7 linked regions of the Homo sapiens genome follow. The protein of the gene in region 3 purifies or fractionates together with the protein of the main gene of each other region. This does not show direct contact. Each region holds a gene or a part of one and is shown on either strand. Other genes may lie near its edges.

Region 1 (4,079 bases), on a different chromosome or scaffold from region 3:
CTGAGGCAGGAGAATTGCTTGAACCCGGGAGGCAGAGGTTGCAGTGAGCCGAGATTGCGCCACTGCACTCCAGCCTGGGCAATAGAGTGAGATTCTGTTTCAAAAAAAAAGGAATGTAATGACTAGGGAAACATCTTGGATTAGATTAATTTGGGGGTCTCACCCAGCTCTCAAAATATATTTTTCCATGTTTTTTCTCTTTCATAGCAAGCAAATCCATGGACCAAAATGCCACCTCATTCAATACTCATTTTCACCTCATCCCTAGCAAACACAAGGCACATTTTAGCAGCATCTTTTTGATCACTCGATGGATACGGAACTGGGTTTCTGGGAGGTAGTTCTAACTTGGGTTTTAGCCTCAATCCCACCCCGAAATCAGAAGGTTCCCCTCTCCCTCCCTGCCTCTTACTTAAGGAGAGATCGTGTTTGGGGGTTGGAGGGAAGATCTGGAAGAAAGTTAAGAACACCAAGCTTAGGAAGGAGAGAATAAAGGATATAATTAAAATACAATAAAAAATGCACAGGCAAATGCTGGGCGTGGTGGCTCACGCCTGTAATCCCAGCACTTTGGGAGGTGGAGGCAGGTGGATCACTTGAGGTCAGGAGTTCAAGACCAGCCTGGCCAACATGGTGAAACCCATTTCTACTAAAAATACAAAAATTAGCTGGGTGTGGTGGCATATGCCTATAGTCCCAACTACTTGGGAAGCTGAGGCAGGAGAATCACTTGAGCCTGGGAGGCGGAGGTTGCAGTGAGCCAAGATTGTGCCACTGCACTCCAGCCTGGGTGACAGAGCAAGACCCGGTCTCAAAAAAAAAAGAAAAAAAAAAAAAGATTCACAGGCAAGATGCAGTGTGCTACAGAAGCAAGAGGTCACATGGTGTCAGTCACTCTCCAGGGCGTTTGTTCTTCATCTTCCAAAGTATTAGAGACGCAGCATGAGTTTCCACGGAGGTTAAGTGAGAGAGACTGGGAGATGCAGGGGTAGAAAGGAAAGATGAGAAAACGCAGGGTGTCTAAAAGGGTAGGTTTGCTGCTGCAGCTTGCCAGAATGCATCTGCTTTAAAGAGAAGGAGTGAGCCATAAGCTCCCAAACAGTCACCCATCTGTAAAGGTTGGTTAGGGGCACACTCACCTTCCAGGCTAAAGTATTCCTGCTAACTGGGATCGGAGAAAGATGAAGAGGATAAATCCTTGTCATCTCCTAGGACCCTGGAACCTTTGCCCCCTTTCTGGGCACCATAATAACTTGCTTATATTTCTGAGTAGTACAGAGGGGATTTTAAATGAAAATGTATTAGACAGGTTGCTGTTGAGCACATGCCCAAGTTTATTGTCTTGCTAACCAAGATATTATCTTGCTAGCCAAGGTGTTGTCTTGTTAAGGGAACCAGCAAGATGACAAAAGAATGGACCTTTCAAGTCAACGTCTACCCAAGCAGCCTGTTTAAGAAAATGATAAAAAGAAAACAGCTCATTAACATTGTCCTTTTCTTTCTTTTCTTTTCTTTTTTTTTTTTTTTTTTTAATTTTGCGGACCCACCAAAGAATGCAGCCCTTCTTTTCTCATGGTCATAAAAATATCACATTCGGTTGGGCGCGGTGGCTCATGCCTGTAATCTCAGCACTTTGGGAGGCCGAGGCGGGCGGATCACTTGAGGTCAGGAGTTTGAGACCAGCCTGGCCAATATGGTGAAACTCCGTCTCCAACTAAAAATACAAAAATTATCCGGGTGTAGTGTTACACACCTGTAGTCCCAGCTGCTCGGGAGCCTGAGGCACAAGAATCGAGGTGGAGGTTGCAGTGAGCGAGATCGCACCATTGCACCCCAGCCTGGACAACAGAGTGAGACTCCGTCTCAAAAACAAACAAACAAAAACAAACACATCACATTCTTATTAGTCATTTGAGGGAACCTGGAGCAATATGATCTGAGAGGCTAGGCTTGGCTAATCCCTAGAAAAAGTAGTAATACATCTAAGAAAGAAATCCCTCTTAGGGAACACCCGAGGCTGCCAGGTGACACAACAAAACTTTCTCATAAAAGCGTTTGATTAATCCGATTAACTTGTAAGCAAGCCATGTGGCAGAGGTAAGAGGCCAAACACCAAGGCACCAGTCCTGATTCTAAACAAGTGCTGGTCCATTTCTTAACTTTGGGATCCATTTTTTCTTTGTGATGGAATAGCAAAAGGTCAAAGTGGAGGAGGACTCAGCCCTTGGGTGTCTCCTCAACGAGGGTTTCTCGAAGGTAAATTGGGGAGGAAGGGAGAGCCCACGGCAGGTCAGTCCAACCTGCCAGTCACCACCTCTTTAAGGCCACAGCCCTGCGGGAGCAATCCTTTCAAATCCCCTTCCTTCCTTCTTTTAGAACGCCCCTAGAACGCCGATTAGGACTTCTCATCCCGGTCGGGCCTGCGGCTCTCTGTGACCCCACCTCTGGATTCAGCTTTTCCCAGGGATTCACACTCGGAGCTCAGGAGAGATGCTGCGATTACTCTGGAGACGGGAAGACAGGCGGGGCTGACGGGGCCCAAGGCCCCTAATCATGACCGGGGCCAGCTGGCAGGAGGGTCCTAAGTATACGGAGGGCGGCGGGACCCCCCCCACCACGCCCCTCATTTTCCGGGGTAGCGCACAAAGTCTGTGAGGCACTTACCCGAGTCTCGTGGCCGTCCGAGGGGCGCGGGAATCCCAGCTGAGGCCCGTGACGCGCCGGAGCCCTAGGCGTGGGCAGGGCCAGCACCAGCCCTAAGACAGAGAAGACGAGCGGAGCCCGGCTCCGCCAGGAACAGGAAGGCGAGGGAAGGTGAGGATGCGCTTCCGGGGCTGCAGGCGGGGAGCCGCCCCGAGTCCAAGCCGGAGAGAGCTGGTTCTCCCCCTGGCGATACGTGTGTGAGCCTCTGAGGCCCGCCCTAAGCACTGCTGCCCCGATCTAGCAAGACAAGAAGACAGGAAATTTATGACAGCCTGAAAAAGTCTTTAAAAGATACACACTGGAAGAATTTCGTAGTAAGATGAGGAAAAAAAAACGTGTTTCCGCCCGGTTTCGAACCGGGGACCTTTCGCGTGTGAGGCGAACGTGATAACCACTACACTACGGAAACCCACTAAGGGCTTATTTTTCAGAGTAAATAGTTCTTCCTGCCTAGTTCCGTGTTTCTTCGTTCCAAGTGCGTGTTTTGCTGATGTGCGCGTGCGTCTCTGTACCGACCTCTCAAACCAGAAAAACCAATGAAAAGCTCAGACCCAGCCCCTCCAGTGTTCAAACTGAAGCCATAGAATTTATTCTACAAATGACTGAATAGGGAAGAACACAATAGAGACTTTAATTTAATCTCTGAACGGTCCTTCGTTCTTCGGCCAAAATGGCCAGGCAAGGCTGGGCACAACTTGGGTAGGGCGAGCGTTTCTCTGGCGTAGTTGGCGTTACCACGTGGTCAGTGGCAGAATGCTCCGCAAAGAAATGATAACCCCATATGTTGTCGGGAGCTGCCCCTCTTGCTTCTGAGTCTTCCAGGCAAATTTATCTTGCAGGAATTTCCTTACTCCTGCGGAGTCAGAAAGTTGTAAAACGACCCTGCTTACACCGAGCCAGCCAGGAGTCGAACCTGGAATCTTCTGATCCGTAGTCAGACGCGTTATCCATTGCGCCACTGGCCCTGCGCGTACCTTAGGGGCGAGGTATTTCATAAGAAACTAGGTTGTACCCGTAATATCTGGGTGAACGCCTGTAAGCCGCGTTTGCCCGCTGGTCCAGGCTCGCAGCGCATGGACTCTCTGGTAGCTACTTCTGCACACGCCCCGTGGCCTTCATTCCTTTCTCGGTCTGTCTCTGCCGGCTGAAAAATGGCGGTGAAAAGCAAGCCCTGCATCCTCTCTGCCCCAATATCACCGCTCCATTAATGCGTTCGTTCATTCAACCAGTATTAGTGTTCAAGGCACTGCAGATAACGGTGAAGAAAACATGAGAGACCCTTGCCCTCAAGATTACATGGCAGTGGCGGAAGCGGATAATAAAGCATTAAATAAACAAAATAATAGTGATAAGCGATTGGAGAAAAATAATAATAA
Region 2 (3,500 bases), on a different chromosome or scaffold from region 3:
AAAGAAGATTCTACACCAATATTTTTATATTATATTAAAGTATGAGTCATTAGGCTCATTTTTAGAGAATATGGATAGTATTCTGAATTATATTTCCCAATTAATAGAAATGTAGGCTTTTAAACATTTTAACATCAGGTTAAACATTTTTAGTAGAAATCTTTCTAAAACTCATTCTTTATAACCACAGAAAACCATGTGTAGTTCACATAATTTAACTTTCTTCTGGTGATTAGCAGAAATCCCATTTTTTTCGTAATGGGCAATAACTTTTGAGTCCTGTAATATTGCTGACTAACCTGTATGACCTCGTATAAATTTTTTAACATCACCTCATGAAAATGTGCACTACACATCGCCACACCATCCCAGCCCTACACCTCCTATACTTTTTAGAGGCTTTACATTCCCGGAGATTCTTTTTTCATCTCAATGATAGGTTGGTGACACAGCAATATAGGAGACGATTCTCAAGAGGGTAGACTGTAAAGGAAATTTTTTCCATATTATAAGTAAAATAAATATTATCAAAAAGGCTTTAAATCACTGGTTCCTAATCTATTTTTAGTTATATTAGCTCTCTCAAGATCTGATGAAAACCATGGGTACTTTCCTCCATTTATGAACACCACCACCACAAATTTTGTGTACAACATCCCAGTATTATTGAACGGTCTAAAGTTTACCAACAGGCCTGCTATAAACCCAAAAACACCACGCAGGGATTTCTGTTTTGTTCACTGCTATATTTGAAGTACCTAGGATAGTACCAGACACACAGAAGGTACTCAGTAAATGTTTGTTGCAAGACTGAATACATAAATGAATTTGTATAGAAGGATATTCACTGCAGCATTGCTACTATTGGCAAAAAATCAGAACAAACCTAAAGGTCATTCACAGGTAAATAGTTAAGTAAAACTGTGGTACATTCATACTAGGAAATAATATGCGGAAATTAAGGAGTGCAAATATATCCATACCAATTTAGAAAACTATTAACAGTATATTGGAAATACATATACTGTTAATAAAAAAAGTTTCAGAAATGTGTGAATACATATGACTGTCTATATAAAGTAGTCCTTGTTAAAAAAAAAAAAGTCTGGAAGGTTACACACTAAAGTGATAATAGTAGCTACCTCTAGGACAGTAGTTCTCCAAGTGTGGTTTGGAGAGTCCTGGGGTCCCTAGGACTTTTTTGGGGGTCCACAAAGTCAAAATTATTTTCATAATAATACCAAGATACTATTTGGCTTTTTACCTCTTATTCTACGATGGGTTATTTTAGAGGAGACATGACATGACACATGGTGTAACAAGAAACTTGAATGCAGAAACAGACATGAGAATCTAGCTCTGTTACTAAGGTGCACATTAACTGGCAAAAATGTGAAGCAATGTCATTCTTCCCTTTCAATTATTTTTGTTTTAGAAAATATGGCCAGACGCAGCGGCTCATGCCTGTAATCCCAGCACTTTGGGAGGCTGAGGTGGGCGGATCACTTGAGGTCAAGAGTTCGAGACCAGACTGGCCAACATGGTGAAACCCCATCTCTACTAAAAATACAAAAATTAATGGGGCGTGGTGGCACGTGCCTGTAATCCCAGCTGCTCGGGAGGCTGAGGCAGGGGAATCACTTGAACCTGGGAGGGAGAGATTGTGGTGGGCCAAGACCGTGCCATTGCACTTCAGCCTGGGTGGCAGAGTGAAACTGTCCCCCCCCCAAAAAAAAAATTAAAAGAAAATATAGTTATTTTTTATTAAAAAGGGTCATTTATGTTAACAAGTAATAGGTATATTATTGTTAGCTTTAAATGAATACGAAAACAAATTCAGTTTTAATGTCTAATATAGTGAATACTGACAGATGTTAATTCACTATACAAAAAGCCCTTTAAAAGTTTCTTCATTACTTTTCAGTGTGTAGTGGGGTCCTGAGACCAAAATTTTGAGAACTCTTACTCTCAAGAGAGAGCTAAGCATTTTTAGGATTAAGGGGGAATGACAGACTTTCGCTTTATCTGTATAGCTTAATAGTTACAACCAAAATATATTTGTGTTACTTATACAATTACAAATATAAATACAATGATCCTTCAGTGTACAATTGCCTGTATTAATAGTGTTTATTTTCATTACAAAGTAGAGCACTCATGTGAAGCGGTTTTCCGCTTTCTAGCCGAGCAACCTCTCAGGATGCAGTTTCTATGGACTCAGGCCATTTAAAAGTTAACAAAAGATCAACACTAGTCACAGGTGTGAAGCCTCCGGGGTTCTCTTCAGTTCCCAGCCTAGTCCTCCAGCCTGTTAATTCTTCCCTCCCTGGAGGCTCCTTTCCAACATCAGGGGCCCTGCTTGCCCATGCCCCTTGCTTCTATAAAAACAAGGAAGGATATGACACAATCTATTTTTGGTTGGTTGATTTCATGAATATATTCACACAAAATCATGCCAAACAGCTATTTTAGCGTTTAAGCTTATCATCTCTAATTATGTAGCAAGATGCTTTCTTCATCAAGAAATTCCTATTTCCACTAATCAGGTTTAGGGATGTTTCTAGGCCTGAGGGGTTTGGAAATTCATATTAAGTCTACTGGACTGATCTCTGAAGAGAGTAATGACATCCTTTAGAAAGACTGTTAGTGGAGGGAGGAAGAAGAGGGCAATCATTCTCTCCAGATGGCTGTCTCTTGGAAGCCTAGTTCTAGAAAAATGCTGGGAGTAGAGTGATGGGGAAAGAGGAAGGCAGGAGCTAATGTAAGCTGAGCATCTACCATGGTCCTGGTACTTCACACCCTTTATCTCTTTAAAGGGTGAGGTGAGTAACATTTGCTTTTTTTTTTTTTTTTTTTGAGACGGGAATTTCACTCTTGTTGCCCAGGCTGGAGTGCAATGGCGTGATCTCAGCTCACTGCAACCTCCGCCTCCCGGGTTCAAGCAATTCTCCTGCCTCAGCCTCCAGAGTAGCTGGGATTACAGGCATGCATCACCACAATTCGCTGATTTTTTGTATTTTTAGTAGAGACGGGGTTTCACTACGTTGGCCAAGTTGGTTTCAAACTCCTGATCTCAGATGATCCACTTGCCTCGGCCTCCCAAAGTGCTGGGATTACAGGCGTGAGCCACCGCACCCAGCCACACATTTGCATTTTTAAAAGAAATAAATGCTCAAAAAGGTAAGTTACTCAAATTTCCCTATCTAGTAAAGAAATAGGGTAAGGATCCAAGTTACTCCTGTCGGAGAACAAAGTCCTACTGTCCTACCCCGTCACCGTACCATGCTGACTTCATGCTTATTACTCACTGATTGCCCATGGGTCTTCTTTCGAGATTTCTCTAGCCCTAATGGAGTACAGCACCCTGTCCTACCTTCTTTAGCCTTGATCTCACCCTAGGCCTTGAGAACACACATTCTCTCATTTCTGCTTCATATGGCACTGTTTGGGGGTAGTTATTGGTGGTAATATTACAGGTTCCCCTACTTATCCCCTTTTCT
Region 3 (3,500 bases):
TGTCACTGAGCCCCTAAAATTCTCTGCAAATATGTATCTGTACATACAAATATGCTTTTTCCAAAGAAATGTGTACATAATTTCCAGTGAATTATCAGAAAACTATGAAACTCCTCAAAAAGTGAATAATCCCTGTTTCAAGGTAATGAACTTAAACTTAACTCATATGGGTCCAAAAAGGTCCTTAAATTACACAAATGCAAAAATAAGTACCTTTCCTTTAAATATGATACGGTCTTTGCAATGTGTTCAGCTCCCCCATCAGGCATATCTAGAAACAAAAGAATCCACTGCTCAGGATGATGTCATCATTTAGAGCCAGTTTCTGGTAGAGGCCATGATGACACACTAACCATCTCGATCCACAGATGTCAGGACAACATAATCCAGACCCCATTCTGCAATTGCCTTTGCAGTATTGTAGGGCTCACTGGCATCCAGTGGAGGAGGATTTCTTGCAGTCTTAACAGAACAAAATCTGCAACCTCTTGTACATGTGTCACCCATCAACTAGAATAGAAATGTTACAATTTAAATGAAATAGACAGATGACCCTTAAGGACATAATGTTGAGAGAATAAAGCAAGTTGCAAAGAATGCATACAGTTTGGTTCTGTTTATAAGAAATTTGAAACATTCAAAACTAAATGATAGTCAAGGAACATAAATATATGTGATAAAACTAAAAAGGGAAATAATAAACTCAGCAATAAGAATAGTGTTCAGGGGAAAGGGGATGGGATCAGGAAAGGACGCAAAATTTAAATTTAAAAACAAAGCAGGGTGCAGTGGCTTGCTCCTGTAATCCCAGCTACTCTGGAAGCTGAGGTGAGAGGATTGTTAAGAGTCTGAGACCAGCATGGGCAACACGGTGAGACCCTGTCTCTAAAAATTAGCTAGTGTAGTGGCATGTACCTGTAGCCTCAGGTATTTAGGGAGGCTGAGATAGGAGGATTACTTGAGCCTAGGAGTTCGAGGCTGCAGTGAGCTATGACTGTGCCACTGCACTCCAGCCTGGGTGACAGAGTGAGACCCCCATTTCTTAAAACAAAATAGAAACACAACTGAAAAATGGGATTCTAATATACAGTTTAGGGGGTACAGAGGGGTATTCAAAGATAATGCTAACGTTTTAATCTCAAACTGGAGGTATGAGGGTGTCTGTTGTGTTATTCTTTATAACTTACACAGTTTATAAGATACTTTTTTTTTTTTTTTTTGAAACAGGGTCTTGCTCTGTAGTCTAGGCTGGGACGCAGTGGCATGATCATGTCTTACTGCAGCCTCAACCTGTTGGGCTCAAGTGATCCTCCCACCTCAGCCTCCTCAGAAGTTGGGTATACAGGCAAGTGCCACCATGCCCAGCTAATTTTTAAAAACTTTTTTTTTGTATGGACAAGGTTTTACCATGTTGCCCAGCTGGTCTTGAACTCCTGGGTTCAAATGATCTGCCTGCCTTGGCCTCCCAAAATGCTGAGCTTACAGGCATGAGCCACTGCACCCGGCCTATGAAGATACTTTTATATCTATTCAATAATAAAAAAAGATGATTTTAAAAGACATAAAATATATGACAGATCAATGTACAGGTCTCTATGGATGTAAAAACAGAAAGCACAGCTCCTTCTTGTTGAATATGTTAAACAGAAAACACATAAAAAGCTAAGCAATCATGAATAATGTTTCCAAACATTGATAGGAGAGGTATCTCAAGGCAGCACGTGATTAACTATCACATAAATGAAAGAACCAATAATAGATTTATTCAGAGAAGGGTGAGATTACAACAGGTTGGATTATTCCATCAGGTTTTTTCTTAATATTTTTCATAAATGCAAATGTAATGAAAAATCTGACCAGAGATTCATAATGCACATTTTTAGGAGGAAGACACAAAATAGTCCCTTTCAGTTTCTAGACTAAAGCCATAGAGGTTGAGGCTGGCCCTACCATGATCGTGGCTGTGGCGGTGGCATATTCTCCACCTCCCCAACACTCTCCAATATTGGGACATCGAGCTTCCTCACATACCTGTATGCAAAAGGAAATGGAACACCATTAGGTTGACAATATCCACCAACTAAACAGTTGGTGACTGTGATTAGACATTTTAAACTTCTCATTGTTTACAACATATTTTTGAAGACATTCACTATTCAAAAATGCTGTTAAGACCAAGTGCGCTGGCTCATGCCTGTAATTCCAGCACTTTGGGAAGCTGAGGCAGGAGGATTGCTTGAGCCCAGGAGTCTGGAACCAGTCTGGGCAACATAGTGAAATCCTGCCTCTACAAAAAATCAAAGTTAGTCAGGCGTGGTAATGTGCACCTATACTCCCAGCTACTCAGAAGGCTGAGGAGAGAGGATCACTTGAGCCTGGGAGGTCAAGGCAATTGTACCACAGCACTCCAGCATAGACAACAGAGCAATGCCCTGTCTTCAAAAAAAAAAAAAAAAGGCTGTTAAACTGCCCAACTCTATATTAAGATTAGAGTGTAGTGAGCATGTCCTATAGAGGTGTACTCCCTTACATAATTATGTAAGAATGGACAGACTTGAATTTTTATTTTTTAAGATGGAGTCTCACTGTCGTCCAGGCTGGAGTGCAGTGGTGCCATCTCAGCTCACTGCAATCTCCACCTCCCAAGCTCAAGTGATTCTCCAGCCTCAGACTTCCAAGTAGCTGGGACTACAGGCTCACGCCACCACGCCCAGCTAATTTTTTTTGTATTTTATTAGAGACGGGGTTTCACCATGTTGGCCAGGCTGGTCTTGAACTCCTGACCTCAGGTGATCCTCCCACCTCGGCCTTCCGAAGTACTGGAATTATAGGTGTGAGCCACCGCACCTGGCCAAAATCCAATTTTTAAATTAAAAACTTTACGAATGTATATACTTCATATGTGCAAATAAAAAAGTCTGAAAGATTATATACTGAAGAGTTAAAGGTAAAGGAGTATGGTTTATATATGGCATTGCGTATGTGACATACCTTCATATTTAATTTTATATTCTTTCCAACAAATCATATATCTAATTTGCAATATAAAACAAACAAAGCCTTGTTTCCAAACTCGTAGGGCAAAAAATCTCTTTGTTTGCCGGAAAAATGATTCTAAATATATTTCCATTCCTGGTAGTAATGTATCACTTAACATATTTACTTTCTTTGCTATTATTTATATATTTATTAATAATTTTTAAGTTATATAAACGTAGAAACATGGCTTTTGGTGAAGAGGGATAGTTTACACTTTGACAACTTACTGTATGGAGATTTAAATTCCGCAAAGTATTTTTCAGTTTATTGTAATTTTTCCCCATGGGAATCTCTGTCTTTAGCCATGGAGGTAGTCTTAACCTAAGGAAAGCCAAACATAACTATCTATTAACAAATATGCTGCCAAATAATTACACAGCTTTGAAGTTAATTTCTTCTATTACAATTCCTAGTTAATAATTTTTTCTATAACCTTAGAATAACTCTTATAATTTCTGTCA
Region 4 (3,148 bases), on a different chromosome or scaffold from region 3:
TCAGCTCACAACGGGGTGATTGAGGCTTCTTGGTTAGAAGCTTTAGAAACTTGAGGTCAGTAAAACCCAAATTGATCCTTTCTCTAGATCCTCTAGATTTCTCTAGAGGAAAAGGTGACAAAAACAGACACTTGTGCTCACCGTCAGGGGCACAATGCTGTCCGTCAATCCTCATGCAGTCCTCCCCACCATTTCGCACACTGACACCATCACTACTTTATGATAAAAGGAGACTCAGGCAGCTTAGATAACAGCTGAAACTCAGCCAGCTATGACATGGAACCTCTGAGGCCCAGCTCCTTGCCTGGTCAACCCCCAAGCCCACAGAAATGGGTTTCACACTCAGGCAAAGCACTGGGCCCGACTGACTGAGCAAATGTAATTTTATGCTTACATTATTGATCCTGCTTTAATATCAGCCATTTCGTACAGGTCTCAGAAAGAGAAAGGCCTGCCATCGAATTCAAATGACTTTGGTCTTTAAATGAAAAAGCACAATGTTTCTCAAATATCCAATTTTATTTTATCATTCTCGCATTGTGGGATGCGATCTGCAGCTAGGATCGGAATTCCCAGGCCTATAGATTTTTAAACCACACCACAGGGGTAAACCTTAAAAGAAGTGAAACCTAACACTATATATATTTCCATTTCTAAATACAGTATATTACAGAAGTTTAAATATACCACCTCTGTGTACTTACAACTATAAAAAGATACAATAACTCTACCAATTATAAATAATGTAGCATTTCATATTAAAGACATTATCGTACAATGGAAGAATAGGAACCCTCTAACGTATCACTATCAAGGTTAGTGTCTATATCTACTTGAGATAAAATACTGAAAATTCAGTGTATGAAGCCAAATCCTGATTTAACAAGTTATTGGTAGTATAAGTGATAAGTGTTAGCTGATGAAGGGAAGGCAAATGTGGTAATTTATATCTCTGACAAGGGTGATAGGCCCATTTTATACATGGTTTTCGTTATACACACACTGGTTCTGTTACGGGCCCTCATTTTATTATTGCCCTCCCCAACTTAATTTGCAAACTTAAGCACTACTTTCCCAATTAGGAAAGTACTAGTTAGTAACCATAAAAGTATCCGTCGGATAACACATTTGTTTTTGTTTTTGAAGCTATATGGGAACACTTTCAGTTTCCCAAGTTAAAACATGAAATTGCACATCATCATTTGGATCCCCAAAGAGGAAAAGAAAAATTCACAACCTGCCAGTGAAATACTCAGGCCACTTGGATGAAGACCGAGGTCCTCCATAGAATCCAGGTGTTATTTACTAACTAATCAGAAATTAATATCAAAATAGGACTTAAAAATAACAAGGCTGTGTTATTACAGCAGTCTTTCCAGTTGTGTACGCTTTACTAATCTAAATTGGGTAACAGAACTGGAGAAAAGGAAGACTACACAGACTTATCATAAGCTGTTAGTGAACGTGATAGAAATGCGTAATTTGTTAAAGCGAATTACAGCTCTGATTTGTCAAATGAGGAGGTGAATTATCCTAGGATTTGCTATGCTGTTGTGGCGTTAGAAGATTGGATCTTTAGCAGCAAAGGTAACCTCAACAATATTTTCTGCTTAAGAAAGTGCCTTGGTTAAGGTAGACCGTGATATCGTCTTTGACTAAGCTCTCTGGGCTATTGATTCTGTCATATTCCAAAGGCAGTATTGGTTTGAAGCCGAATCTCACGGTCAATGTCAACATGCAATCCACAAAGACCCTGGCGCCCTTCCACGGTATGCACTAACCAAAACTTTCTCACTGTGAAATCCTTTTTTTAAAAACAAGAAAACAAAAAACAAAAACCAAAAAACCTTACTGTGAATCCTTTCCCAAGGAATGGTCCCACCTTCACCTCGGAAAGAGGCGTGGCTTGCTCTGTAAGCAGGTCCACCCTGAGGAGACCGCTGGTGCAAGAGCCCTGCTTGCAGAACACACAGGGGGTTTTCCCACATTCTTACTGGAGTCAGATTCGGCAAAGCATTTCAAGCAACTGCTGGACACTTCAAATACCACTCCCTGTTAACAACGCCCTGAGTATCTCACTGTCTCCAGGATCTGGTTTAAAGGGAAACACAGAAATGGCCAACAGCTCCCTCCCCAGGCAGGACTGCGATTTCACAGACAACCTATAGGCATCCCCAGTCTGGTGAATAAACAGGAGAGTGAGAGGAAAACAGCAATCATTCAACTCCAGTAGATGTAAAGCCTCCAGAAGAATGTGTCCCGGGAAGGTCAGAAATGTCATTTTTTTCCTCCAGCACATTTCATCTGCCACATTCCGCCGTCCGATGTTTGAGGAAGGAGCCCCGCCTTTCCTTCAGGGGTTCTTGTCGCCAAGTTTGATGGTGACAGTTTTCACTTCTGTGTATTCGGCCAAAGCGTATTCACCTCTGTGATCACAGAAAAGAGGAAAATTCAAAATGGGTACATCCCTTAGCCATTGTGTAGAAACTGTTCTGAGGCTTCATCATTCCATCAGGCCGTTGGAGGCTTATGCAAAAGGTTAAAATGTGACGACCTCATGGAATAATAGCCAGGACTATAACAGCACTAGTAAGTGTCAGTAGCTGCATATGTGACTTAAATGTAAATATCAAGGTCTTCTTCTGTGTGATGCTTTTGAAATGGCCAGGACTAAGGGTTTCCCTTTAGAGAATGAAGGGGATTTTAAAAAAAGTAAAGAGGTGAATTCCCTGGGGTGGCAATAGAGAGCAAAACGAGAGAGCCTGGTGGACGGTGGGGTGTCTGTGAACGAGGGAGGGGCAGAAATTACACTGGGTTGATAACTTTTAGATGGCAATTGGGAGCTGCTTGAAGAGGAGACAGAAGAGGCAGAGGCCCAAAGCTATTGGCTGGGGATGTGGCCAGAGGACCAGTGGGAAGAACACCAAGGGCCTGAAGCTGGCCTCAGAGTGCACAGCTGGGGACCAGCTGTCAGGCAGTGAGGCCAGCCTAGGGGGCATGAGAGAAGCAGACGTTAGCACAGAGTGGACATGGGGAGGCCACAGCTTTTGGGTTCACATCCTTGGTATAGTTCCTTTCTTTAAATCTTGCAGGGCTCAGGTGATCCTTCCCTGGCACCATGGGCCGTCTTCAGGGTAGCTTCCCTTCC
Region 5 (3,483 bases), on a different chromosome or scaffold from region 3:
CTTGGCTCACCGCAAGCTCCGCCTCCCGGGTTCACGCCATTCTCCCGCCTCAGTCTCCTGAGTAGCTGCGAATACAGGTGTCGGCCACAACGCCCGGCTAATTTTGTTTTTGTATTTTTATTAGAGATGGGGTTTCACCATGTTAGGCAGGATGGTCTTGATCTCATGACCTCGTGATCTGCCTGCCTCGGCCTCTCAAAGCACTGGGATTACAAGTGTGAGCCACCGTGCCTGGCCATGATTTTCTTAATGACATTTTTTCCTCTAGCTTACTGTAAGCATACAGTATTTTACAATACATACACAAAATATGTGTTAATTGGCTGTTTATGTTATCAGCAAGGCTTCCAGTCAACAGTAGGCTATTAGTAGAAAAGTTCTGGAGGAATTAAAGTTATATGCAAATATTTGGCTGCACAAGGGTTGGTGCCCCTAACCTCTGCATTGTTCAAGAATCAACTGTATCCAAATGAATAAATACACTGCAGAACAAGAACACGTTGCAGCTTAGTAATAGTTTTACTTATTAACTTACTTAAAAAGAGATAATGAACATTTGTGAAATTGTTTACAATTGAGATATCCATACACACAAGTCATGTGCTGTGTGATGTTTTGGTCAGTGACTGCATATATGATAGTGGTCCCATAAAATTATGATCCTATATTTTTACTGTACTTTTCTGTTCAGATACACGAATACTTACCACTGTGTTACAACTGTGTACAGTACTCAGCACAGTGATGTGTTGCACAGGTGCGTAGCTTAGGAGCAACAGGCTGTACCATATAGCCTAGGTGTGTAATAGGCTATACCATCTAGGTTTGTGTCAGTGTACTCTATGATGTTCACGTCACGATGAAATCACCCAAGACACATTTCTCAGAATGTATCCCCATCATTAAGCAACACATGACTGTATATATACATTTACTAATGTTTGTTATTTTTAATACAGAAAAGTTTCTTCTTTGCTTTTTAGAAATTTTATCAGTTACAAAAGGAAATAACATTTAGAAAACAGTTTCAACTTTCATAGGCAAAACATACACATGAACCACACATAGGGCTGAGTGGATGTTTCCTTATTGCTAAGTCCATAGCCTCTAGTATGATGCCCAAGTGTCATAACTACACTCCCACATCAGCAAACTCCTCCCTCTTAATATGCTCAGTGATTTCTATCTCACCCTTCCTTACTTCCTTTGCAATTCAAGTAAGAAAACAAACAATTTAGATGTTCGAGTATAGGAAATATTTGCCGAGACCAGCTTGGTCATGGAGACCCTAACCCAGAGGCGCTAGAGAAATTAAAGACACACACCCAGAAATATAGCATGCAGAGTGGGAAATCAGGGGACTCACAGCTTTCAGAGCTGAGAGCCCCGAACAGAGATTTACCCATGTTTATTGACAGCAAGCCAGTGATAAACATTGTTTCTATAGATTATAGATTAACTAAAAGTATTCCTTCCCAAACGAAACAAAGGCATGGGGTCTGGCTAGTTATCTGCAGCAGGAACATGTCCTTAAGGCACAGATCGCTCATGCTATTGTTTGTAGTTTAGGAACGCCTTTAAGCCGTTTTCCCGCCCTGGGTGGTCCAGGTGTTCCTTGCTCTCATTCCGGTAAACCTTCAGCATGGCGTCATGGCCATCATGAACCTGTCACAGTACTGCAGAGATTTTGTTTATGGCCAGATTTGGGGGCATATCCCCAGCAAATATTGGTTAAGTCTGTGCTTCAGACTAGATTTTTCAAGTCTACTGGCTTGTTTGAAAAACGCTTTTAGACAACACATCAGGTTTGTAACTTTTCACAAGTTTAAAATATTTCAAAGGTCTTTGAAAATTATAAAATCTTGAAATATCTCTATTTTAGTTTTCCGAGGGGTGCTGTTTTGACAGATTTGAAATTTTTTTATTTGAATAAAAAGCCATCACTCTTTCATTCAATTTAGTGCCTAGATGTTTCCTTAGAGCCTGGGTTGTTGTTCCAAGAATCTGTGGAGAGTACCAACTTAGCCTGCTGCTGCAAAGACGAAGGAATCCTTTCTCAGAGAAAACTCAAGACTGAATATGGTAGACTGGATTTTCCAGAGATGGCTGTGGACATAGGCTATCAAAGGGTTTTTGGGATACACAGTCCCACATGCCCCTTCCCTCCCATTGCATTCACAATGGATCACCTTTCGATTAAATTTCACCAGCTCATCCCCGGTAATTTTTTATTTGACTGGAAACATGGGCTTTTAAAACACACACAGGGCTCTCCTTTAGCCTGCAGAATGTGGGTATATCTTTACTATTTTCTCCTGCTCATAAAAATACATGCTTTTCACTAAACGAGTTAAATAACCACCCATAATTCACCCACAAGTTTGGTGTACTTTCTTCCAGTATTTTAAATATGCAAAAATATCGTTTTATTTGTATTTACTACCTGTGTAACTATATGCTTAGCCTTTTTCCCCCCATTTTGAGTTTATTTTTAATTCAGGGATTAGGTAGCCAGAGTCTGGCCTAGTGACTTCTGACCTTTCACTTGTGATCTCTTATCCATCTTCGGCCAGAGGCCTCTTTTTGTAGCCCAGCCTCATCTCTTGTGGACCTTGAACAAATTTCTCCAGCTACTGTCAAATGCCTGAGATTTGTTAACCACACCATTTATTTTTGCTAACACTAGTTAACAAATAAGCTTTTCTAGAAGAGCTAGGTGGAATATGTCATCAGAGACTTGGAATGAAAACAAAATACCCTTGGTAACTTACTTGCACCTGCGTCTTCCTCAGACTGCAAAGTGGTCACCAGCAATTCAGAGAGGCTCCAGTAACAAGCAGCTTCACTTTTTATCACGTAACCTAACCATCTTGAGGTTATGTGTCAAAGGAAGAAGACATTTCCTTTTCTAAAAAGTCAACTGCTTTCTTCTTTACTAAAACAATTTAGGGGCTGGGCGCAGTGGCTCACATCTGTAATCCCAACACTTTGGGAGGCTGAGGCAGGTGGATCACGAGGTCGAGAGTTCAAGACCAGCCTGGCCAAGATGGTGAAACCCTCTCTCTACTAAAAATACACTAGGCGTGGTGGCACGCGCCTGTAATCCCAGCTACTCGGGAGGCTGAGGCAGAGAATTGCTTAAACCCGGGAGGCAGAGGTTGCAGTGAGCTGAGATCACACTACTGCACTCCAGCCTTGGTGACAGAGTGAGAGAGACTCCGTCTCATAAAAAAAAAAAATGTAGGTTTGTCCTTCCAAATTGTTTATCAAATTTTGGTAGATTCAGGAGTTGGGTAACACACAGTAACTGGGCAGCTGATATAAAGTCTGTATTTTTATAACTACTCAAGAGCCAGGAAGCCAGCTTTCTGCTAGCATCTTTCTCCTAACATACCATTGGCACATGAAGTTATTATTTCAGAGCTTAATTATATTTCCTGACTACACAAAAAGCCAATGCATTAAAAAAAGGCCCACCTTTAT
Region 6 (3,500 bases), on a different chromosome or scaffold from region 3:
GTTCATATTTTGTATTAAAAAAGTAAAAGTAAAAAAGCCCCAATTAATTCAGTTATAGATTAGTTAGAGATTATTTCTGTCAGATGTTCAGTTGGCAAAATCTCTTTTCAAGTTAGTCTTTTGAAAATAGTCTGTTTAGGCTGGGTGTGGTGGCTCATGCCTGTAATCCCAGCACTTTGGGAGGTGGGTGGATCACCTGAGGTCAGGAGTTGAGACCAGCCTGGGCAACATGGTGAAACCCCATCTCTACTAAAATACAAAAATTAGCTGGGCGTGGTGGTGGGCGCCTGTAATCCCAGCTACTTGGGAGGCTGAGGCAGGAAAATTGCTTGAACCCAGGAGGCGGAGGTTGCAATGAGCCAAGATCTCACCACTGCACTCCAGCCTGGGGGACAGAGGGTGACTCCGTCTCAAAAGAGAAAAAAAAAAAAATAGTCTGTTTAGTGCTCAGTACAGTGCCTGGCACTTAGTAGGTGTCAAATATTGGTTGAATGAATGATTGATAGTATAGATATAGCAGTCTATTCATTCACCAGGTGATGGACATTTCCATATTTTTCTGTATGTGTGGCTATTTTAAATGAAGCTGCTATGAAGATTTATGTACAAGTCTTTGTGGAGCACGAGTTTTTATTTCTTTTGGGTAAATAACTAGGAGTGGGATTGCTAAATCGTAGAGTAGGAATATAAAACAAAATTGGCCATGAGTTGATCATTGTTAAAGCTGCAAAGGATATGTGGAGAATTTTTTACTTTTCTCTACTTTTGTGTATGTTTAAACTTTTCCATAATCAAGCATTTTAATATCTCTTATTTTTTCTTTTTTTGCAGGCAGTTATTTAGGATTGAAGGAGTAAAAAGTGTCTTCTTTGGACCAGATTTCATCACTGTCACAAAGGTAAACATAGGATTATATAAAATAAGACTTGAAATACTCTTCATTTTTTTCTGAGTCCAATGCCTCTCTCTCCAACATTTCCATTCTTTCTGTTCTTTAATTTTTATATTTTATTTTTGAGACAGGGTCTTACTCTCTTGTCCTCTAAATGTCACAAGAATCAAGCGAAATATGCTATGTTTTTCTTTTTCTTTTCTTTTTCTTTTTTTTGAGATGAAGTCTTGCTCTTGTCCCCCAGGCTGGAGTGTGATGGTGCGATCTTGGCTCACTGCCACCTCTGCCTCCCAGGTCCAAGTGATTCTCCTGCCTCGGCGCCCCCCCCCGCCACCCTGAGTAGCTGGGATTGCAGGCGCCTGCCACCATGCCCAGCTAATTTTTATATTTTTAGTAGAGACAGGGTTTCGCCATGTTGGCCAGGCTGGTCTAGAACTCCCGACCTCAGGTGATCCACCCGCCTCGGCCTCCAAATTGCTGGGATTACAGGCGTGAGCCACCACGCCTATAAAAAATATGCTATGTTTTTCAACAGTCAAGGCAGTATCTGCTAGAAAGGGCTGTTCCATTTTTGATGTCTACTAGATTAATGGGACATGAACTATTTAAATTTGAACTATGTATCCTTTTAAATCTGTTAATTGACATATATCCACGGAACTTAAATCACTTGCCTGATAGTGTGTGAAAATCAAAAATATTTATTAAACTCCCCTTAAGCAAATTGAAAGGATTAGTCTGAGCTCTTTATGTCCTTAAAAGTGGACATACTGGGGGCCGGGTGTGGTGGCTCACGCCTGTAATCCCAGCACTTTGGGAGGCCGAGGTGGGCAGATCATGAGGTCAGGAGATCAAAACCATTCTGGCTAACATGGTGAAACCCCGTCTCTACTAAAAATACAAAAAAAAAGTAGCCGGGCATGGTGGCGGGCGCCTGTAGCCCCAGCTACTCAGGAGGCTGAAGCAGGAGAATGGCGTGAACCCGGGAGGCGGAGCTTGCAGTGAGCGGAGATCGGGCCACTGCACTCCAGCCTGGGCGACAGAGCGAGACTGCATCTCAAAAAAGAAAAAAAGGGGACATACTGGGTTAGTGACATGTTAAATCTAGTCATCTAGTCCAGTATTCTCTTGCGGCTATTTATTTAGAGACAAAGTCTCACTCCACACCCAGGTCAGAGTGCAGTGGCATGATCTCAGCTCACTGCAGCCTAAGCCTCTTGAGCTTAAGCAGTCATCTCACCTCAGCCTCCCTAGTAGCTGGGACTATACGTGCATACCACCATGTCCAACTAATTTTTGTATTTTTTGTAGAGATAGGGTTTCGCCATGTTTTCCAGGCTGGTCTCAAATTTCTGAGCTCAAACAATCTGCTCACCTCGGCCTCCCAAAGTGCTGGGATTACCGGTGTGAACCACCACGTCCAGCCCCCCATTCTTCAGTTTTCTTTCTTCCATATTTTTTAAGGAGAAGAAGGGATGAACATTTATTTAATATATTCAATGTCGGATATGGCCCTAGTGCTTTACATATGTTATCTAATTCTTACAACTAGTTATTTTATAAGTGGGAAATTATATATTTATTTTTTAAAGTTATTTAGTTCTTTTACGTATAGCCTATGCTATATAAAAATTTTTATAGGTAAAAATGTGATTATATCTTAAAGGGTTTTGGTTTTTTTTTTTTTCCTATTTTTCTTGATTAGATTTAGTAAGTCATCTTTTAGCTCTCTTACTTTCATTATTTAGTTACCCTATTTGAAATTGCCCTAGCTCTACAATTTTTTCTTAAGTGAAATGACATAACCAATAGATAATATCCCAAGTTAGGGTATATGTTGATACACATATATGTATGTGTGTGTGTATATCTATCTATCTACACATACATATAGATGGGATCTTGCTCTGTTTCCCCAGGCTGGAATACAGTAGTGCGATCATGGGTCACTGCAACCACTAACTCCCAGGCTCAAGCGATCCTGCTGTCTCAGCTTCCCGAGTAGCTGGGACTACAGGTGCATGCCACTATGCCCAGCTAATTTTTTTTTTATTTTTTTTTATTGTAGAGACAGTGTCCTTCTATGTTGCCCAGGCTGGTCTCAAACTCCTGGGCTCATGCAATCCTTCTGTCTCGGCCTCCCAAAATGTTGGGATTACAGGTGTGAGCCACCACGCCTGGCCCACGTTGGTATTTAATAGACGGAATACTGGATTTATTTTGTTTTCTTCCAGTAATGTTTCTCATCATGGACTATCACATTTTACTGAATGTCTTCAGCAATCGCCTGTTTCTATTTCTGATTTCCAGTTGATAATTAGACTTCTTTATGCATCATTTGTGTTATTTTTTTCTAAATATATATGTATATTTGCAGCTTATATGCTGCCCTTTTTTTCTCATTCAGACAACTTTAGAATATTTTTTCTTTTTATTACCAATATTTTCCTATTTAGTAGAGCCTGCTATTTACTGAAGATCTGAGGTAACACTCTGATTTGTTTTCCAAATAATTTATTACCTACAACTAGTTTCCATTCCCAATCACTAAGATATTTCACTAGTTTTACTTTTATAACCTTAGCAGTCCCCATTTATCTCACCTTTT
Region 7 (3,500 bases), on a different chromosome or scaffold from region 3:
TCCAGCCTGGGCAACAAGAGTGAAACTCTGTCTCAGATTCTGAGACGTCTCGCCACCACGCCTGGGTAATTTTTTTTTGTATTTTTAGTAGAGACGGGGTTTCTCCATGTTGGCCAGGCTGGTCTCAAACTCCTGACCTCAGGTGATCCACCCGCCTCAGCCTCCCAAAATGCTGGGATTCCAGGCTGCCCAGGCTGGAGTGTAGTGGAGCGATCTCGGCTCACTGCAAGCTCCGCCTCCCGGGTTCTTGCTATTCTCCTGCCTCAGCCTCCCGAGTAGCTGGGACTACAGGTGCCCGCCACCACGCCCGGCTAATTTTTTTATATTTTTTTAGTAGAGACGGGGTTTCACCGTGTTAGCCAGGATGGTCTCAATCTCCTGACCTCGTGATCCACCTCGGCCTCCCAAAGTGCTGGAATTACAGGCGTGAGCCACCGTGCCCGGCCATGGCCGACATTCTTTAACTCCTATTTGTTATTCAGACAAGGCTCTCTTCCTGATCGGTTCATAAGAGTTCCCTGAAGTATAATAATGGATGTGGCTGACAATAGCCAAACAGTGCTTCACAGCTTGCCAAGAGTGTACACATATTCTTGTTTAAATTTTGACTAGTGAATCTATTACAAGATGTTTCTTGAGGGCAGGCACAGTGGCTCACACCTGTAATCCCAGCACTTTGGGAGGCTGAGGTGGGCAGATCACTTACAGTCAGGAGTTCGAAAGCAGCCTGGCCAACGTGGTGAAACCTCATCTCTACTAAAAATACAAAAATTGGCCAGGCATGGTGGTGGGCACCTGTAATCCCAGCTACTCAGGAGGCTGAGACAGGAGAATCGCTTGAACCCAGGAGGCAAAGGTTGCAGTAAGCCGAGATCATGCCATTGCACTCCAGTGTGGGTGACAGAGCAAGACTCCGTCTCAAAAAAAAAAAAAAAAAAAAAAAAAGTTTCTTGGCATCAATGTGAAAACTGTTAAAAACTCTAAACCAGCAACCTCACTGAACATGATGTAGTGCTGCACAGTGCCTGACATAAAGACCTGAGATAGGCCAGGCGCGGTGCCTCACACCTGTAATCCCAGCACTTTGGGAGGCCAAGGCAGGCGGATCACAAGGTCAGGAGTTCAAGATCAGACTGGACAACATGGTGAAACCCTGTCTCTACTAAAAATACAAAAACTAGCCAGGTGTGGTGGCGGATGCCTGTAATCCCAGCTACTGGGGAGCCTGAGGCAGGAGAATTGCTTGAACCCGGGAGGCAGAGGTTGCAGTGAGCCAAACTCATGCCATTGCACTCCAGCCCAGGCCAACAACAGCGAGACTCCATCTCAAAAAGGGAAAAAAAAAAAAAAAAAAAAAAAAGACCTGAGATGTGCCATGTCCTGAGGAACAGGGATCAGAGAAGAACTGGTGTCTCCCTCTCCAGTCACATAACACACTTTGTAAGTGTGCTTTCTAACCATTATGTAAACAGATTTTACAGTCACTAATCCTGTCATTTGTAGGAATTTACTGTCATTTTTAAGTCTCAACAACAAAAAGTAAATAAAATTTAAAACCTCCAATGGCTCCCCAGTGCCTATAAAATAAAGTCCTAATGCTTTAAAACAGGACACGGGATACATCCCACCAGGACCCACCTTCCATGTTACTGCATTTCAGGAGCAGCTCACACCCCACCTCTCATGAAGCCCTCCGACCTTGTGACAGCATCACACGTCACAACCATGACTGCCCTGTCCCACCAGAGACCCTGTGTCATCCGTCCACAGCACCACACGCAGCAGGTGCACAATAAACGTGCTGCTGAAAGACGTGGTCTGTGAAGAAGGCGCCAAACACAGACTGGCTCTTCCTGCCTCCCTGATGGTTACCTCTTCAAAGTTGGTGACTTGCTCCACAGGCACTTTCTCCTCTTCCTCAAGGGCGTGGCGCAAGGTCTTCTCAACCCGCTGCAGCAGGAAGTCAAAGGCGGCAGGATTCTAGCACAACAGTGAGACGACGGGGTCAGAGGGGAAACACACCCACACTAGCCTGCCTCAGGTTTGACGCTGTGGCTGCACGTGGCAGGTTGTGCCCGAGAAAGCTCCGGAAGGACTCATGTGCACAATCTGCAGTGCACTGCCCTAAAGAAGCCCCCGGGGGGTGCTGGGCCAGAGAAGCCACACCCGGTGAGGGGCCGTGGGACAGGATGGGGAGAAGGGGCTTTATTTCAGCCCCTGCAGCTTCTGGGTCCTACCACAGCACAAGAGTGGGAAGAATCTGAATCCCAGGGAAGAAGCACACCATCCTAAACCGGCAAGGGATATCGCTGCGGAAAACCCCAGACTCGAGGGCCTCCACGTGGCCCCCGACGTAGGTCTCAGAGTCCAGCACGTGTCCGTCGTCCGTCAGCTTATTGAACTCCTGCTCTTGCTTGTTGGGGAAGATGATGTTGGCGTGGAAGGCCTGCACCATCAGCAAGGCCTCACACAGAGTGCCAGAGCCCTTCCGCAGCACCTGCAAGAGAAACCAAGGCTTCCAGCCAAAAGCAACACCAAAGGCCCTGACTTGCAGGCAAAGTCCAGGAACCTAAGCTGAACTTCAGTGTGAAAGGAGAGAAAACCTCGTGGTAAATGGCTGCAAATTCTGCCTCCTGTGGTTTCTTCCTCACACCAGGGCCAGAGAATTCCCAAAGGACATCCCTGACGTCACACACCAGAATTCTACTGCCGCCTCTGGTGCCAGCACTCCTGGGACATCCACCTCCATTCAGCTCCAGTGCATTTGGAATGGGGCAAGGGCTGAGGAGGCCAGGGTGCCGACAGGACAGATAATGCTCACCTCGTCGGGCTCCATGGGAATAATGGTGCACAGAGCAAAGATGAATGGGTGGACGTACTTCATGTACAGGTAGTAAGTGGCGACAGCATCTGACACAGAATACGTGGCCAGAGTCTGAGGAGAGAACGCCAGAGAGCAGGGCCATCAAAAATCAAGAGCCCAGGGTCAAGTGTGAAGCACAGAAAGCAAAGCCTGGCCTGACCAGCCTGCCGCACACACAGTAAGGAGACCGGCACAGGACAAAACACGTGTGTCCCGGAGACACAGCCTGCTGGGTGGAGCGGGCTGGCATACATGCGTGCACACGGCAGCAGGGGGAGCCGGGATGTGGCTCACATGCCTGGGGCTGCTCCGTGGCCATCTGGATGCGTGCACACGGCAGCAGGGGCAGCCGGGATGTGGCTTACGTGCCTGGGGCTGCTCCGTGGCCATCCGGCACATGTCCTCCGGGTCTAGCTCCACGGGATCATAGCCTAGCTTGGCCTTGGCGGCCGCCTTGAGATTATGACTGCCCACAGGAAGGTAACTGTCCCTCTTCACCCACCTGGAAGGAGAATGAGAACAGAAGCCAGGATGATTCTAACATGCAGCCCGGGAACCCCTGAGAACTGGCAAAACTGGGCACCACACAGACAGATGCAAGTTCCTAACAGGCACCCAGGAGCCTCACACCAAGGCC

Evidence for each region.
Region 1: the proteins of LIAS (region 3) and HMGN4 purify together in Homo sapiens (co-immunoprecipitation; one large-scale study listed by IntAct). This does not show direct contact.
Region 2: the proteins of LIAS (region 3) and NDUFAF5 purify together in Homo sapiens (affinity purification with mass spectrometry; one large-scale study listed by BioGRID and IntAct). This does not show direct contact.
Region 4: the proteins of LIAS (region 3) and ALDH1A3 purify together in Homo sapiens (affinity purification with mass spectrometry; one large-scale study listed by BioGRID and IntAct). This does not show direct contact.
Region 5: the proteins of LIAS (region 3) and CTSV purify together in Homo sapiens (affinity purification with mass spectrometry; one large-scale study listed by BioGRID and IntAct). This does not show direct contact.
Region 6: the proteins of LIAS (region 3) and NFU1 purify together in Homo sapiens (co-immunoprecipitation; one large-scale study listed by IntAct). This does not show direct contact.
Region 7: the proteins of LIAS (region 3) and POLE purify together in Homo sapiens (co-immunoprecipitation; one large-scale study listed by IntAct). This does not show direct contact.

The regions. Positions count from the first base shown.
Region 1 is NC_000006.12:26,537,087-26,541,165, reverse strand, and holds the start of HMGN4 (high mobility group nucleosome-binding domain-containing protein 4), read right to left. Parts: upstream 2,801-4,079; 5' UTR 2,665-2,800; intron 1-2,664.
Region 2 is NC_000020.11:13,802,028-13,805,527, reverse strand, and holds part of NDUFAF5 (arginine-hydroxylase NDUFAF5, mitochondrial), read right to left. Parts: intron 2,379-3,500; coding exon of another isoform or gene 2,196-2,378; exon of another isoform or gene 2,112-2,195; intron 1-2,111. UniProt on the Homo sapiens protein: Arginine hydroxylase that mediates hydroxylation of 'Arg-111' of NDUFS7 and is involved in the assembly of mitochondrial NADH:ubiquinone oxidoreductase complex (complex I, MT-ND1) at early stages. May also have methyltransferase activity.
Region 3 is NC_000004.12:39,462,056-39,465,555, reverse strand, and holds part of LIAS (lipoyl synthase, mitochondrial isoform 1 precursor), read right to left. Parts: intron 3,361-3,500; coding exon 3,267-3,360; intron 2,032-3,266; coding exon 1,951-2,031; coding exon of another isoform or gene 1,915-1,950; exon of another isoform or gene 1,742-1,914; intron 511-1,741; coding exon 354-510; intron 272-353; coding exon 214-271; intron 1-213. UniProt on the Homo sapiens protein: Catalyzes the radical-mediated insertion of two sulfur atoms into the C-6 and C-8 positions of the octanoyl moiety bound to the lipoyl domains of lipoate-dependent enzymes, thereby converting the octanoylated domains into lipoylated derivatives.
Region 4 is NC_000015.10:100,913,979-100,917,126, reverse strand, and holds the end of ALDH1A3 (retinaldehyde dehydrogenase 3), read right to left. Parts: exon of another isoform or gene 2,427-3,148; coding exon 2,354-2,426; 3' UTR 501-2,353; downstream 1-500. UniProt on the Homo sapiens protein: Catalyzes the NAD-dependent oxidation of aldehyde substrates, such as all-trans-retinal and all-trans-13,14-dihydroretinal, to their corresponding carboxylic acids, all-trans-retinoate and all-trans-13,14-dihydroretinoate, respectively.
Region 5 is NC_000009.12:97,029,177-97,032,659, forward strand, and holds the end of CTSV (cathepsin L2 preproprotein), read right to left. Parts: 3' UTR 501-3,483; downstream 1-500. UniProt on the Homo sapiens protein: Cysteine protease. May have an important role in corneal physiology.
Region 6 is NC_000002.12:69,416,936-69,420,435, reverse strand, and holds part of NFU1 (NFU1 iron-sulfur cluster scaffold homolog, mitochondrial), read left to right. Parts: intron 1-831; coding exon 832-898; intron 899-3,500. UniProt on the Homo sapiens protein: Iron-sulfur cluster scaffold protein which can assemble [4Fe-4S] clusters and deliver them to target proteins.
Region 7 is NC_000012.12:132,670,343-132,673,842, forward strand, and holds part of POLE (DNA polymerase epsilon catalytic subunit A), read right to left. Parts: intron 3,366-3,500; coding exon 3,233-3,365; intron 2,936-3,232; coding exon 2,822-2,935; intron 2,498-2,821; coding exon 2,285-2,497; intron 1,981-2,284; coding exon 1,873-1,980; intron 1-1,872. UniProt on the Homo sapiens protein: Catalytic component of the DNA polymerase epsilon complex. Participates in chromosomal DNA replication.